Linked DNA regions of Homo sapiens: region 2 is reported to be linked to region 1. Evidence: microRNA targets listed by miRTarBase, many of them from high-throughput screens and not tested one by one. Region 1 holds a microRNA gene; the other region holds the end of a gene's coding sequence. Distances are from middle to middle.

Region 1 (7,244 bases):
GAGATGCTAATTTAGGAGCTTGAGATGCTAAAGAGCTGGGAGTGCCACTGCTGCTTTATTCTGGGGTCTAGGATCCTTGTGTTGGCTGAGATAATCTGCTAATGTGGGTGCAGCAGACATCCCGCGGTTTGTGGAATCGATAAAGGATGGGGATCAATGGTGTTTGTGCACTGTGCGGTCTGTGCCCAATTGCCTGCCTTGTGCTGTGGAATCTGTACATCTGGCCAACATGTGCTTGTGTGAGCCTGACAGTGCATTTTCCAGAGCCTCACCTCGGCTCTGCCCTGGAGGCTCTGTGCTGCTGGAATCAGACTCAAGGACCTCATCAGAGGACCATGGCCCCGTATCACCTGGGTCAGGCACTGAAGCTGGGACAGGAGAGCAGAGACTTCCAAAATGAGGGATCCCTGTGTTCTGAGGTGATCATGACTGGGACCCAAGGACTCAAGCGCATGCTCCAGAGGGAATCGTTTCCCACAAGGCCTTTGGCAGGAACAGGGATCCTGGGAGCCTGCCAAGCAGAGCGCACAGTGTTCCTGGAGTCTCGCTGCCCAGATGCCACGGAATCAGTTGAAGGTATGGAAACACAGGTGGCCACGTGGTAGCAGGGCAGGCTCAGGCGTCATAGCCCGAGCCCGGCTACCTGTGGTTTGCCTGCAGAAACATCCCGGGTCAACAGGCCAGGCACCGCATTGGTTCGCGAGGGTCATCGGGGGTAGGACCCTTGTACGAGCCACATCGGGCTACGTGCCTGATTCACCCCAGGGTGCACTGTTGAAGGTTGGGGAGATGAGAGGAGATACTTGGGGGACAGTGAAGTGTCCCCATTCTTTGGATGATGGGGATCTCGGCCTCAGCGTGAGACCCCTCCCACAGGGTCTCTGGCAGGCTCAAGAGCCCAGGGGCTCTTGCATAGCACATGAATATTTCTGGAGGCTTCCCCTTCAGTCTCACCACCCGGATGGTGCAGAATTGGTTGTAGCTGTGGAATCGGAAGTGGCCGCGTGGCGGCAGTGCAGGCTCACACATCACAGCCCGAGCCCGCCCCAGCTGGGGTTCGCCCGCGGAAACGTCCCGGGTCCCGCAAGCCAGGCGCCGCAGGGTTCACGGGGGTCATCAGGGATAGGACATTCATGGGAGCCACATCGGGCTATGTGTCTGATTCACCCCAGGGTGCACTATTGAGGGTTGGGGAGATGAGAGGAGATACTTGGGGGACAATGAAGTGTCCCCATTCTTTGGATGATGGGGATCTTGGCCTCAGGGTGAGATCCTTCTTGCAGGGTCTCTGGCAGGCACAGAGCCCGGGGGCTCTTGCATAGCACATGTGTATTTCTGGAGGCTTCCCCTTCAGTCTCACCGCCCGGATGGCACAGAATTGGTTGTAGTTGTGGAATCGGAGGTGGCTGCGCGGCGGCAGTGCAGGCTCACACATCACAGCCTGAGCCCGCCCCAGCTGGGGTTCGCCCGTGGAAACATCCCAGGTCATCCAAGCCGGGCGCCACAGGGTTCACAGGGGTCGTGAGGTATAGGACACTCATGGGAGCCATATCGGGCTACGTGTCTGATTCACCCCAGGGTGCACTGTTGAAGGTTGGGGAGATGGGAGGAGATACTAGGGGAACAATGAGGTGTCCCAGTTCCATGGATGATGGGGATCTCGGCCCTAGTGTGAAACCCTTCTCGCAGGGTCTCTGGCAGGCACAGAGCCCGGGGGCTCTTGCATAGCACATGGGTATTTCTGGAGGCTTCTCCTTCGGTCTCACCGCCTGGATGGCACGGAATTGGTTGTAGTTGTGGAATCGGAAGTGGCCGCGCGGCGGCAGTGCAGGCTCACACATCACAGCCCGAGCCCGCCCCAACTGGGGTTCGCCCGTGGAAACGTCCCGGGTCACCCAAGCCACGCGTCGCAGGGTTCACGGGGGTCATCTGGGAATAGGACACTCATGGGAGCCGCACCAGATCTTCAGGTCGGGCATTATCCACAGCCCCGTGGCCCCGGGTCACACTCCGAGGGCTTCAGTGTCATGGCCTGGGACTCAAGTCACGCCTACTTATGTGATGATCACAGTGTGTTCCACCAAAATCTTACATTTTCCACATCTATCCCAGAGCACAGCTCCGACTCCGTCTAAGGACAGCCCCCAAATCCCCAGCCTTTTACTGAACTGACAATTGCCTCCCCAGTGAACACTCTGATCTCCTCAGCCCTAAGTGGCCAGACATTAACATTCTCATTCAATGCAGGTTTGAGGTGCTAATTCAGGAGCTTAAGATGCTAAAGAGCTGGGAGCGCCACTGCTGCTTTATTCTCTGGTCCAGGATCCTTGTGTTGCTGGAGATAATCCATTATCGTGGGTGCAGCAGACACCCTGCGGCTTGTGGACTCGGTACGGGGTGGGGATCCTGATGGGGTTAGGATGTTCGATGGCTCGGGTGTGCTCCACGCTCAGGGATCATCACGTCCGGCCGGCGGTAGTTGGCACGTGGAGAGGTGAATTTGCCCACAGGTGTTCCCCGTGCCTGCGCATTGCTGGCAGCACGACCGGATCCTGTGCTAGCCCCTCCCACAATGCCTGGAGCAGGAGCGAGGGGCCTGGGGAGCCGCCTTGCCTGGAGCATTTGTATTTCCGGAGTATTTCCTGAGTCTCCCCTTGGGTCTTGGGTGCTGTCCCCAGTGAGCCCATCTCCCAGCGATGGCACAGAATCGGTTGTGGCTGTGGAGACGGAAATGGCCGAGAGGCGGCAGTGGTGACTCACATCACAGTCTGAAGGTGACCCAAGGCTGGACTCCACTTTTAGCAAAATGTGGGGGTCTGCCTTGGTCTCCTAACTTGGGGGTCCACTCATGGAAAAGCCTGAGAATTTTCATGCCATGGAAATTCCCCCATGTCGTGGGGTTCACGCACGACAAAGCCCGGCGGTCAGTGCTCAGCAGGCAAGCACTCAGCCCTTTCCGGTGGGGCCATGGGAACAGAGGGTTTGCCGAAGGCGCGGCCAGCCCTTCCACATCCCAGAGGGCCTGCTGGGTGATTGGACCCGTGAACTCTGGGTCCCTTGGCCCTGGTGCTCCCCTTCACGGCTTTGACACTCGAGACTTGAGGTGAACCCCAGGGACTGCAGGGCCCCAACAACCCTCACCAAAGGCCAAGGTGGTGACCGACGGACCCACAGCGGGGTGGCTGGGGGAGTCGAAACTCGCCAGTCTCCACTCCACTCCCAACCGTGGTGCCCCACGCGGGCCTGGGAGAGTCTGTGAGGCCGCCCACCGCTTGTCAGTAGAGTGCGCCCGCGAGCCGTAAGCACAGCCCGGCAACATGCGGTCTTCAGACAGGAAAGTGGCCGCGAATGGGACCGGGGTGCCCAGCGGCTGTGGGGACTCTGTCCTGCGGAAACCGCGGTGACCAGCACAAGCTCGGTCAACTGGATGGGAATCGGCCTGGGGGGCTGGCACCGCGCCCACCAGGGGGTTTGCGGCACTTCCCTCTGCCCCTCAGCACCCCACCCCTACTCTCCAGGAACGTGAGGTCTGAGCCGTGATGGTGGCAGGAAGGGGCCCTCTGTGCCATCCGAGTCCCCAGGGACCCGCAGCTGGCCCCCAGCCATGTGCAAAGTATGTGCAGGGCGCTGGCAGGCAGGGAGCAGCAGGCATGGTGTCCCCTGAGGGGAGACAGTGGTCTGGGAGGGAGAAGTCCTGGACCCTGAGGGAGGTGATGGGGCAATGCTCAGCCCTGTCTCCGGATGCCAAAGGAGGGGTGCGGGGAGGCCGTCTTTGGAGAATTCCAGGATGGGTGCTGGGTGAGAGAGACGTGTGCTGGAACTGTCCAGGGCGGAGGTGGGCCCTGCGGGGGCCCTCGGGAGGGCCCTGCTCTGATTGGCCGGCAGGGCAGGGGCGGGAATTCTGGGCGGGGCCACCCCAGTTAGAAAAAGCCCGGGCTAGGACCGAGGAGCAGGGTGAGGGAGGGGGTGGGATGGGTGGGGGGTAACGGGGGAAACTGGGGAAGTGGGGAACCGAGGGGCAACCAGGGGAAGATGGGGTGCTGGAGGAGAGCTTGTGGGAGCCAAGGAGCACCTTGGACATCTGGAGTCTGGCAGGAGTGATGACGGGTGGAGGGGCTAGCTCGAGGCAGGGCTGGTGGGGCCTGAGGCCAGTGAGGAGTGTGGAGTAGGCGCCCAGGCATCGTGCAGACAGGGCGACATCAGCTGGGGACGATGGGCCTGAGCTAGGGCTGGAAAGAAGGGGGAGCCAGGCATTCATCCCGGTCACTTTTGGTTACAGGACGTGGCAGCTGGTTGGACGAGGGGAGCTGGTGGGCAGGGTTTGATCCCAGGGCCTGGGCAACGGAGGTGTAGCTGGCAGCAGCGGGCAGGTGAGGACCCCATCTGCCGGGCAGGTGAGTCCCTTCCCTCCCCAGGCCTCGCTTCCCCAGCCTTCTGAAAGAAGGAGGTTTAGGGGATCGAGGGCTGGCGGGGAGAAGCAGACACCCTCCCAGCAGAGGGGCAGGATGGGGGCAGGAGAGTTAGCAAAGGTGACATCTTCTCGGGGGGAGCCGAGACTGCGCAAGGCTGGGGGGTTATGGGCCCGTTCCAGGCAGAAAGAGCAAGAGGGCAGGGAGGGAGCACAGGGGTGGCCAGCGTAGGGTCCAGCACGTGGGGTGGTACCCCAGGCCTGGGTCAGACAGGGACATGGCAGGGGACACAGGACAGAGGGGTCCCCAGCTGCCACCTCACCCACCGCAATTCATTTAGTAGCAGGCACAGGGGCAGCTCCGGCACGGCTTTCTCAGGCCTATGCCGGAGCCTCGAGGGCTGGAGAGCGGGAAGACAGGCAGTGCTCGGGGAGTTGCAGCAGGACGTCACCAGGAGGGCGAAGCGGCCACGGGAGGGGGGCCCCGGGACATTGCGCAGCAAGGAGGCTGCAGGGGCTCGGCCTGCGGGCGCCGGTCCCACGAGGCACTGCGGCCCAGGGTCTGGTGCGGAGAGGGCCCACAGTGGACTTGGTGACGCTGTATGCCCTCACCGCTCAGCCCCTGGGGCTGGCTTGGCAGACAGTACAGCATCCAGGGGAGTCAAGGGCATGGGGCGAGACCAGACTAGGCGAGGCGGGCGGGGCGGAGTGAATGAGCTCTCAGGAGGGAGGATGGTGCAGGCAGGGGTGAGGAGCGCAGCGGGCGGCGAGCGGGAGGCACTGGCCTCCAGAGCCCGTGGCCAAGGCGGGCCTCGCGGGCGGCGACGGAGCCGGGATCGGTGCCTCAGCGTTCGGGCTGGAGACGAGGGTGAGTTTTTCCCCCTCTGCCACCCTCAGCCCCCACCCGCCCCTCCCCACACAACCAACACGTTCTCCCCACACGACTCTCTCGTTCTCCCCACAGCCAGGTCTCCAGCTGGGGTGGACGTGCCCACCAGCTGCCGAAGGCCAAGACGCCAGGTCCGGTGGACGTGACAAGCAGGACATGACATGGTCCGGTGTGACGGCGAGGACAGAGGAGGCGCGTCCGGCCTTCCTGGTGAGCGTGTCTGCCCTCCCTGCGTCAGGACGCGGCCCTGCCCAGACCGCCCCGCCGGGCCACCATCTCACTGCCCCGACCTCTGTCTTCTACAGAACACCTTAGGCTGGTGGGGCTGCGGCAAGAAGCGGGTCTGTTTCTTTACTTCCTCCACGGAGTCGGCACACTATGGCTGCCCTCTGGGCTCCCAGAACCCACAACATGAAAGGTGAGGGGCTTCCTGCCACACTTGGGGTGGGGGGCACGCGAGAGGAGCTGAGTGGGACCTCACTCCTTCCCCATCCACAGAAATGGTGCTACCCAGCTCAAGCCTGGGCCTTTGAATCCGGACACAAAACCCTCTAGCTTGGAAATGAATATGCTGCACTTTACAACCACTGCACTACCTGACTCAGGAATCGGCTCTGGAAGGTGAGCACCAGCGCTCCTTCCGGAAGCCTCCAGGCCCCCGAGCACCCTGCCCCCATCCCACCCACGTGTCGCTATCTCTAGGTGAAGCTAGAGGAACCAGACCTCATCAGCCCAACATCAAAGACACCATCGGAACAGCAGCGCCCGCAGCACCCACCCCGCACCGGCGACTCCATCTTCATGGCCACCCCCTGCGGCGGACGGTTGACCACCAGCCACCACATCATCCCAGAGCTGAGCTCCTCCAGCGGGATGACGCCGTCCCCACCACCTCCCTCTTCTTCTTTTTCATCCTTCTGTCTCTTTGTTTCTGAGCTTTCCTGTCTTTCCTTTTTTCTGAGAGATTCAAAGCCTCCACGACTCTGTTTCCCCCGTCCCTTCTGAATTTAATTTGCACTAAGTCATTTGCACTGGTTGGAGTTGTGGAGACGGCCTTGAGTCTCAGTACGAGTGTGCGTGAGTGTGAGCCACCTTGGCAAGTGCCTGTGCAGGGCCCGGCCGCCCTCCATCTGGGCCGGGTGACTGGGCGCCGGCTGTGTGCCCGAGGCCTCACCCTGCCCTCGCCTAGTCTGGAAGCTCCGACCGACATCACGGAGCAGCCTTCAAGCATTCCATTACGCCCCATCTCGCTCTGTGCCCCTCCCCACCAGGGCTTCAGCAGGAGCCCTGGACTCATCATCAATAAACACTGTTACAGCAATTTGTCTCGAGGACTCTGGAATCCGGGCTGTGGGCATGATGTGGGGGAGGCCAGCCTTGGGCAGAGGGGGGCTGGGGGGCATGGGGAGGAGTACATGAAAAGGGGGATGGGGGTTCCAGGGTGGGGGATTCTGGGATGGGTGCAGCGCAGCACACACCAGGGGTGGGGTGAGCACAGGGTGTGTGGACCTCAGGGGTGCAGGGCAGGCGGTCAGCATGCAGTGATGGCAGTGGAGGGGCTGTGGGACCAGGGGCTTCACAGACTGGGCGGGGGCTGGGCTTGCGGAGGGGGCCTGCGCTCTGAGGCAGGGGTCGGGGACCACCAAACCATCCCCGAGCGAGTGCCTCCTGTCGCCCCAAAGTCCCATCAGAATGACGCCTTGGTGCTGGCCCCAGACCCCTGAAGCCCGGGCTAGGTGACTGGGGTAGAGCTGGCCATGGCCGCTCTGGGAGGCCCACAAGGTGCTCTGGGCGACCCCACCCCGACAGGGGCACGAACCCCGCGCCAGTCCCGTTCCTGCTCCCCTTTTGCTGTGGGTGGGAGCCGGGGCCACGCCGGAGGGACGGCCCCGCACAAGGAGCCAGGGGGTTGTGGGGGAGCCGGTGGGCTTCTCAGTGGGCAGGTGG
Region 2 (7,000 bases), 10 Mb from region 1:
CTGCCCAGTGAGCATTGCCTGTGGACATCCTGACTGCTTAGCTGCTCCGCTGCCACACATATGTGGTCAAAACAGAAACCAATTTCACACTGCCCTGGGAAAGGAATGGGTCTGACCTCCAGGGGAAGCTCTACCATATCTTGACTGGCAGGGAAGGCTGGGAGTGGAAGCTATTTATGGACTGATCCAAAGGACATATGCATGAGTAAGGGTAAAAATGAGCATGCAGGTCCACCTGTGTTCTTACTCTGGGTATCTAGAAGAGTCCTCAGCTCTCCCTACTCCACGCTGCCTAGACATACACAGCTGCAGGGTCTGGCTGAACAATCAAGGGGCCGCCAGAGAAAGGCCATCTACGGTGCGCAGTGTATCTGGAGTTGCTGGGCCCAAGATAGCTCTGTGGAGTTATCACTAGAGATGCCTCTGGATTAACTAAGAGGTGTGCCTGGGTGTGGGTGAGGAGTCAGAACCTTTGAGAGCTTTGAGATGACAGTTTCTATGGGGCGGGAAGAAGGAGGTGCATTTCTACAAACACTTCCCTGAAATCCTTGGGAAAAACAGAGGCATGGCCGTGGCCAACTCTGTGGGAACTGGCGCCTCTGTCCTTGTTGGCACTGTTCTCAGTCCGATGACTTGCATTGTGTTTTCTCCAATTTTTGCTGGGATTTTAATGTTCAGCATGGTGGGAGGAACCCTTGATTCCTTTTGTTTGAGTATAGAAAGTAAATTTTTGAGGTCATGATGTGAACGGCCATGTTATTGTGATTATCTTCAGCTCAGGATAGGCTGAGATGCTTTGTGGAGTGTTCCATGAAGCCCGAGTCGGAATCTCTGACTGTCGTGTACAGCCATAAGGAGACTGGTTTGAATTACTGTGGCGAGACAGGGCGTGCCTGTCAGAAATCTGAGATGTTTGTACGCTCTGAGATGTTGAACCTTTCTGGTGGGCAGCACCGACACCCAGGGGTGGACCCCCGAGGATGAATGCCTCTAGGCCTCCGCAACATATTCAAGAATGAATGGGAGACGCTAGAGTAAAATGGGGGCAGAGAGGATATCAGGGAGCAAGATGCAAACTGTGTGCATCCACTCTCGTAAACAAGTAGCTGGTCACAACCAGAAAGGTTCATCTCTCCTAAGCAAACAGCGACTCTTTCAGAGGAAGTTTCCCTCTTTCAATCGTGGCCTTATTTTCAACTCCGGTGCCTTCTCGTGATGTTAATCATTTCCTTTTTTCCCCACACTAAGCTCTCTTTTCTATCTTTCTCTCTCTTTCCAATCTTACGCCATGGCCATCAGTTCATTTCAGCCTTCCAGTGCTACACCCACTTCTTGGCTGACACACTTCTGCTCTAAGGTGACTGGTTTTCTTGCCAATTTTCAAAGAGTGGTACTAACCCCCAACCCGCTTTCCGCACCCCGTCCTCTCCGCCAGCAGTACTGGTTGCACTAACTGTGAGTGTCTTGCATACTGATGGACTCATTTGGTGGCATGGTTGGCTAACAGCATGGCGGGGGGTGTTCAGCTTGAGACCCATGCCTGTGTTCATTTCCCATGGAGCTGGCAGCCTGGTCTACCCCAAGTGCATGCCCCGCCTCTCCTCTCTCCCTTGGGTCTGCCTGCGTGCATGCTTCTCCAGTTGCGTCTGCGAAGCTACCTACTTTCTTGGGAGGGTCGACCTTGATCATGAAACAATACCATGAGGGGGCCTCTGTCACCTTTGAAAAGAACACTTTTTGAGCAGCCTCAAAAAGCTCATACATACCAGCGCCTTCTTAAATTGGCTCTAATGTAAAGATTGTTAATGTCATTTATCAAAACCATAGGTGATTATTTGGAGGGATTTAAAAAACTTAATTACTCTCAGGCCTCATCCCAAGCTTGACACATGCTCTGTAGGTTGAACACATAATCACAAATATTCTAGCAAATGCTGCCTTGGTTGCAGCCTGCACTGTAGACCCAAGGGTTTTGCTGTGGCTCTTCTTATCTCCCTTGGCTCATAAAGCCCCAGATGATGCCAGAGCTTCAATTAGAGCCATCATCATCCCAGGCAGGGATATCTTTGAGAAATGACTCAGTTCAGCCCCAGGCCCCTGTGACTCTGCTTAAAGCACACATTTCTGCTGACTCTTGTACCTGGGGCAGCAGGATAATCACCAACACACTCTTAACGAGAAACAACACACCAAGCACCGTGGAGCTGTCCTAGGCAACACTCGCGGTCTCAGGCTGCGGTGGGCGTCTGTCCTGCATGTGGCCCAGACCACCCTGACCCCCGGGCCTGCCTGCCTGGCCCTGCATGCTGCACGCTCACTGTATTTGTGCAGATCCTGGCCAGTACAAAGTCGTTGCTCTTGTCTTATCTTCTCTTACAGAGTCTCCCTCCCTTTATAGAATGTCAACCAAAGAGTGCCCTCCTCCCCTCTCAGCCTCCTCTTTAGCTAGCCTCCCCATCTCATCACAACGCATGTCTGTGACCTTTGGTAATCATTTACAGTGCCACACGGAACCCTGTATTTTGCACACAGCAAAACAAACAATGTTTAGCTTTATTTATGGTATTTGATGCTGTAAATGGAAATAAATATTGTTCTTTATAAAGCTCATTGTTTCCTCTCTTCTTTGCCGTGGAAGCTTCTAAAACCTCACACACAGGGATTGGTGTAGGGGGTTCATTTTCCCTAAACTGCTGGCGGGACTTGCACTTGAGGTAACACAGGACTCTCTGGGGCTGCGCTGGGCACTCTGAAAGGAAATATTACCCCTGGGTAATATTTGGAAACTGTCACCAATGCTCCTGGGCTAGGCTTTGGGATCTCTTTCTTGAACACTCATTGTACTTTGCTGTTCTAGATGCTGGGCATAGTGGGTGAGGGTCAGTGTCCCCTCAGCGATTAGAAGCAGACTGTATTGATGGCTACCTTTACCCGTTTCCCCCGCACACCCAAGCGTGGCTCTACAGGAGAGCTTTCCCCATGAACCTTACACTAATTTAGGTTCCTATTCAGCAAAGGTTGGTCTGGAACACTTCACGCTGGTGCACAGCTGAGTGGCAAGTGGAAGGTAAGTAGGAAGGACTGGGCATCAATATTAGGATGGCAATGAAGTTGGCAGTGTGCTCATCAGATGGAGAGCCACTGCCATCCTAAGAGACCTCTCCTGTCCCAAAGGCTCAGGGTATTCAGTATCTATGGTGTGAGGCCCTGCCCTAGCACCACCCGAAGTATAGTATTCATGGCAGGCCCCAGGCAACTCCAGGCTGTGTTTAAGGGAAAGATTTGGAGCCTCACTTGGCTATCCTGGGCAGTGCCAAAGTCATCTGGTCCTCAGCCTCCCCTGGGTGGGATGCCTGCCATTTCCTGGCTGGGCGTAGCTGGGCGTAGCTGGGCTTCTGACAGTGGTATGAAAAGTCACCTGTGAACCTCATGAGGTCCCTGGCACCTCCAAATGGGTGTTCCTGAGGCTCTGGTCTCTGATGCCTGGATCTACCTTCAGAGCTGCCTCAGGTCATGACCAAGGGTTCTGTACTCTTACCTGGGTGATATATTCCCACTTCCATTTAAGGAGGGATGTTAGGGACTGTAAGTCAGGTGCTGGGCTGTGCAAGTGACTCATTCCTTTATGCATTCATTTATTCAGCAAATGTTTGTCCTAGGCCTTATTCTAAGCCCTAGGTACAGCAGGGAACCATGCGAAGTCCCCACACCTCCCTGCACCTTAGAGATGTGGCTCAGTATTGCTGTACTAGATGAGATCTGTTATATTTAACTGTGCATGTGCTCATTTGTTTGCTCAACTCTGTGATATTTCCTGAGCATCTACTATGTACTAGGAATACAGCAGGGAGTAAAGCAGACAAAAATCGTCACTTTATTGTCAAAGCGTGACACCCCAAGTGGTGCTTCACCAACAAAGGAGTCCATGATCACAACATTTGAGGAATATTTTGTACTGATCTTGCCAGTCCTCCCCCGTCCTGGAGACTAGCAAGATTCATTAGCATGTCAAGTCTCTGAGGCATCCTTGTAGGGAAGTTTAATCAACTTTGTGAAAGTCAGCTGTCCCATACTTATGTGAACATTTTGTTTTTGTTTTGGTTTGCTTTTTTTGAATATTGCATTCTACATACATAGTTTTGGTAGACTAGTGTTTAATTCAGAGATATTGGATTAAAGACTTAGAATTTTAAAAGGAAAACCATATAATTAAATATTAAATGGAATTAAGTATTGATTAGATATGGGGTGATAACCTTCTAAGCATAAATCCTCTAATAGGAAGAACACCACACAGGGAAAACATGACACAAATCTGATTATATACATTTTTAAAACTTAATGTAGAGTAATAAAATATTAAATAGACCATTAGACTAGGGAAAAATATGAACTAAATGTAATAACAAAGAAGTTCATTGCATGGTATTTTCAAGGTTCATTTAAAACAGATGTTCCTGGGCACCTCTCATAGTGTAGATGATCAGTTAATATTTGTTGATTAAAGAGTCAATGATAAATAGGCAAAGGCTATGAACAGGCAATTTACCCTTAAGCAAATTTTAAAAGTAAACACTAAAAAGAAAAAGCAAGCATTTACAAAAGTATTCCTACTTGGTTTTTAAAGGAAGTAAATTAATTATGGTGCACATGGGCCAGGTGCGGTAGCTCACACCTGTAATCCCAGCACTTTGGGAGGCTGAGGCGGGCAGATCACTTGAGGTCAGGAGTTCGTGACCAGCCTGACCAACACGACAAAACCCTGTCTCTACTAAAAAAAAATTAGCTGGGCACGGTGGCACATGCCTTTAATTCCAGCTACTTGGGAGGCTGAGGCACGAGAATCACTTGAACCCAGGAGGCAGAGGTTGCAGTGAGCTGAGATCATGCCACTGCACTCCAGCTTGGATTACAGAGTGAGACTCTGTCTCAAAAAGAAAATAATAAAAATTATAGTGCATCTACTGAATTAGTAAAGAAAAAAGTAAAACTGTAAGAAAAAAATATGAACTTCATCCCAAGTATTGAGTAAAAAGTAAACTGGGAGAATCTTTTCCTGGGAAGCATTATGGCAACCCTGATTAAGATCCAGAAAAGGGCTCTGACCTCTTGGCCTAATAATTCTACTGCAGGGAATTTATCCTGAGGAAATAATCCAGCAGAAGAAATAAATCTGTGCAACTTGAATGTGTAAGTCGGTCAAGCAGAGTGGGTGGGCTGTTCCCCTTTATTTCTATAAATGCATTCATTTTTACAACTTAAGAAAAAAAAAGGCTTAAGTAAGTAAAAGAAGTTACTGCATCTTTTACTGCCCCCCAGCCAGCTGTTATATAGGGAACATTTTCTCTGTGCCAGGTAGTGGGCCAAGAATTTTATGTGCAGAACTTCGTTAGCTCTTCACCTCCTTGTGGCAACCTTGCGGTCAGTACTGATGTTAAAGAAGCTCCTGATACTAGGGAGGCAGAAGCAAGTCTAGAGCCACATTTTCCACTGTGAAGGGACTGAGTCCCACAGCCCAGGCTAGGAGTCAGGTGCCTGCTCTAAGAGGAACCTCGGTGCATGCTGAGGGCCTGGGCTCCACCAAAGACCAGGCTTTGCTCCCAGCAGTTGGTACTGACTCAGTGGCATTAGACAGGTCCCTTCTGTGAACTGGGGCTAAGGATGCCTCTAGTGTAGGGTTTTTCAAGGTGTCTGACTCTCAGGACAGCAAGATCTCTTTGCCATGTTCTAGATAGCACTTTCCTGATCTTGCACAGCATAGAGCGCCCAGAGGAAAACTTGTCGGGCATTCTCGATTAACTGGGGCTCAGAACGCCTGACAGGACACCTTCAGGTTGGGAACTAGACAGCGGTCTCGATTCACACTGGTGGCACCATCTGCTTTCCTCCAGGTTTCTGATTCCCCAGCCTTCTTAAAGGCAACAGCCACCTCCCTTCGGACACCCAGGCCTCAGCTCTGGAGCTCCCCTTCCCTCCCACCACCTGCCGGTGGACTTTGGTTTTGCCTTAGTGAGTGCCCGAGTCTCAGCAAGGAGGGGGCATAGGCTCTCACTTTGTGCCCAGCTGCCCGCTTGCTCCACACCTGATGTCTACTGGGCATGTCCAGCCCAAATGTCCACTCCAACTGCTGATTTTCCCCCAAAACAGGCTCTGCCCTTAGCCTTCCCCATTTCTGGAGACTGCAATTCCCCTTTTCTTGTTGCTCAGCCCAAAGGCCCTGGAGTCATTCTTGACTCTTCTTTCTCTTGACCTCACACGAAATCCATTAGCAAATTTGAGGAATATCCAGAAGCTGTCCATTCCTCACCACCTCCGCACTAACCACCCTCCGCCACTGTCATCCAAGTTATTGCAGCCACCCCTCTGAGGCCTCCTGCTTCTCCCTTCACCCCTCAACCTCCTCAACAAAACAGCCGGATTATCCTTTTATTTATTTGTTTGTTTGTTTTGAGACAGTGTCTTACTCTGTCACCTAGGCTGGAGTGATGTCAGCTCGCTGCAAACTTCACCTCCTGGATTCAAGTGATTCTTATGCCTCAGCCACCCGAGTAGCTGAGACTACAGGCACCCGCCACCACACCCAGCTAACTTTTGTATTTTTAGTAGAGACAGGGTTTTGCCAGGCTGTTTTCGAACTGCTGACCTCAAGTGATCCTCCCGCCTCAGCTTCCCAAAGTGCTGGGATTACAGGTGTGAGCCACTGTGCCTGGCCTGGATGATCCTTTTAGAATTTATGTCTCACTGCTGCTCAAAACTCCAGCAGCTCTCCAGCTCACTGAATGCAAACTCCATGAGGGCAGGGGTCTTGGTTGCCTTTCAATGCTTGTATAACCCCGACAGAATTGCACTTAGCACATAGTGGGCCCTCAAAAAATATTTTTAGGATATATGCCCTCTGGCCTGGACCTCAGACTGCAGAACATGCAGCCATCTCGGGCTGGGGAAGGTCTGGCTGGCATCCAGCATGGTTCAGGAGGGAGACCTGGAGGAAGAGAAGTCT

The links. The annotated mature microRNA hsa-miR-675-5p reads UGGUGCGGAGAGGGCCCACAGUG and lies in region 1 at 4,972-4,994, shown strand. An mRNA with a match to its seed (bases 2 to 7 or 8) in the 3' UTR can be bound and repressed. Matches are read on the target gene's strand: a 7mer-m8 pairs with bases 2 to 8, a 7mer-A1 pairs with bases 2 to 7 and ends in A, and an 8mer does both.
Region 2: miRTarBase lists MICAL2 as a target of hsa-miR-675-5p. The part of its 3' UTR that is shown has no 7-base or 8-base seed match.

What each region holds. Positions count from the first base shown.
Region 1 is chr11:1,994,550-2,001,793 of GRCh38, reverse strand. It overlaps MIR675 (microRNA 675), which reads left to right and starts at 4,963; the gene lies at 4,963-5,035. H19 (H19 imprinted maternally expressed transcript) reads left to right here and starts at 3,952. Exons shown (of 5, transcript NR_002196.3): 1 at 3,952-5,276; 2 at 5,373-5,507; 3 at 5,603-5,715; 4 at 5,796-5,918; 5 at 6,000-6,618. It also overlaps a transcript of MRPL23 not described here. RefSeq lists enhancers at 1-199, 200-1,047, 1,897-2,743, 2,744-3,592, 3,593-4,440.
Region 2 is chr11:12,261,181-12,268,180 of GRCh38, forward strand. MICAL2 (microtubule associated monooxygenase, calponin and LIM domain containing 2) reads left to right here. Exons shown (of 28, transcript NM_001282663.2): 27 at 1,300-1,357; 28 at 2,380-2,605. The coding sequence ends at 1,340. Among named protein-coding and RNA genes, the nearest start is that of MIR6124, 100 kb to the left of the region's middle.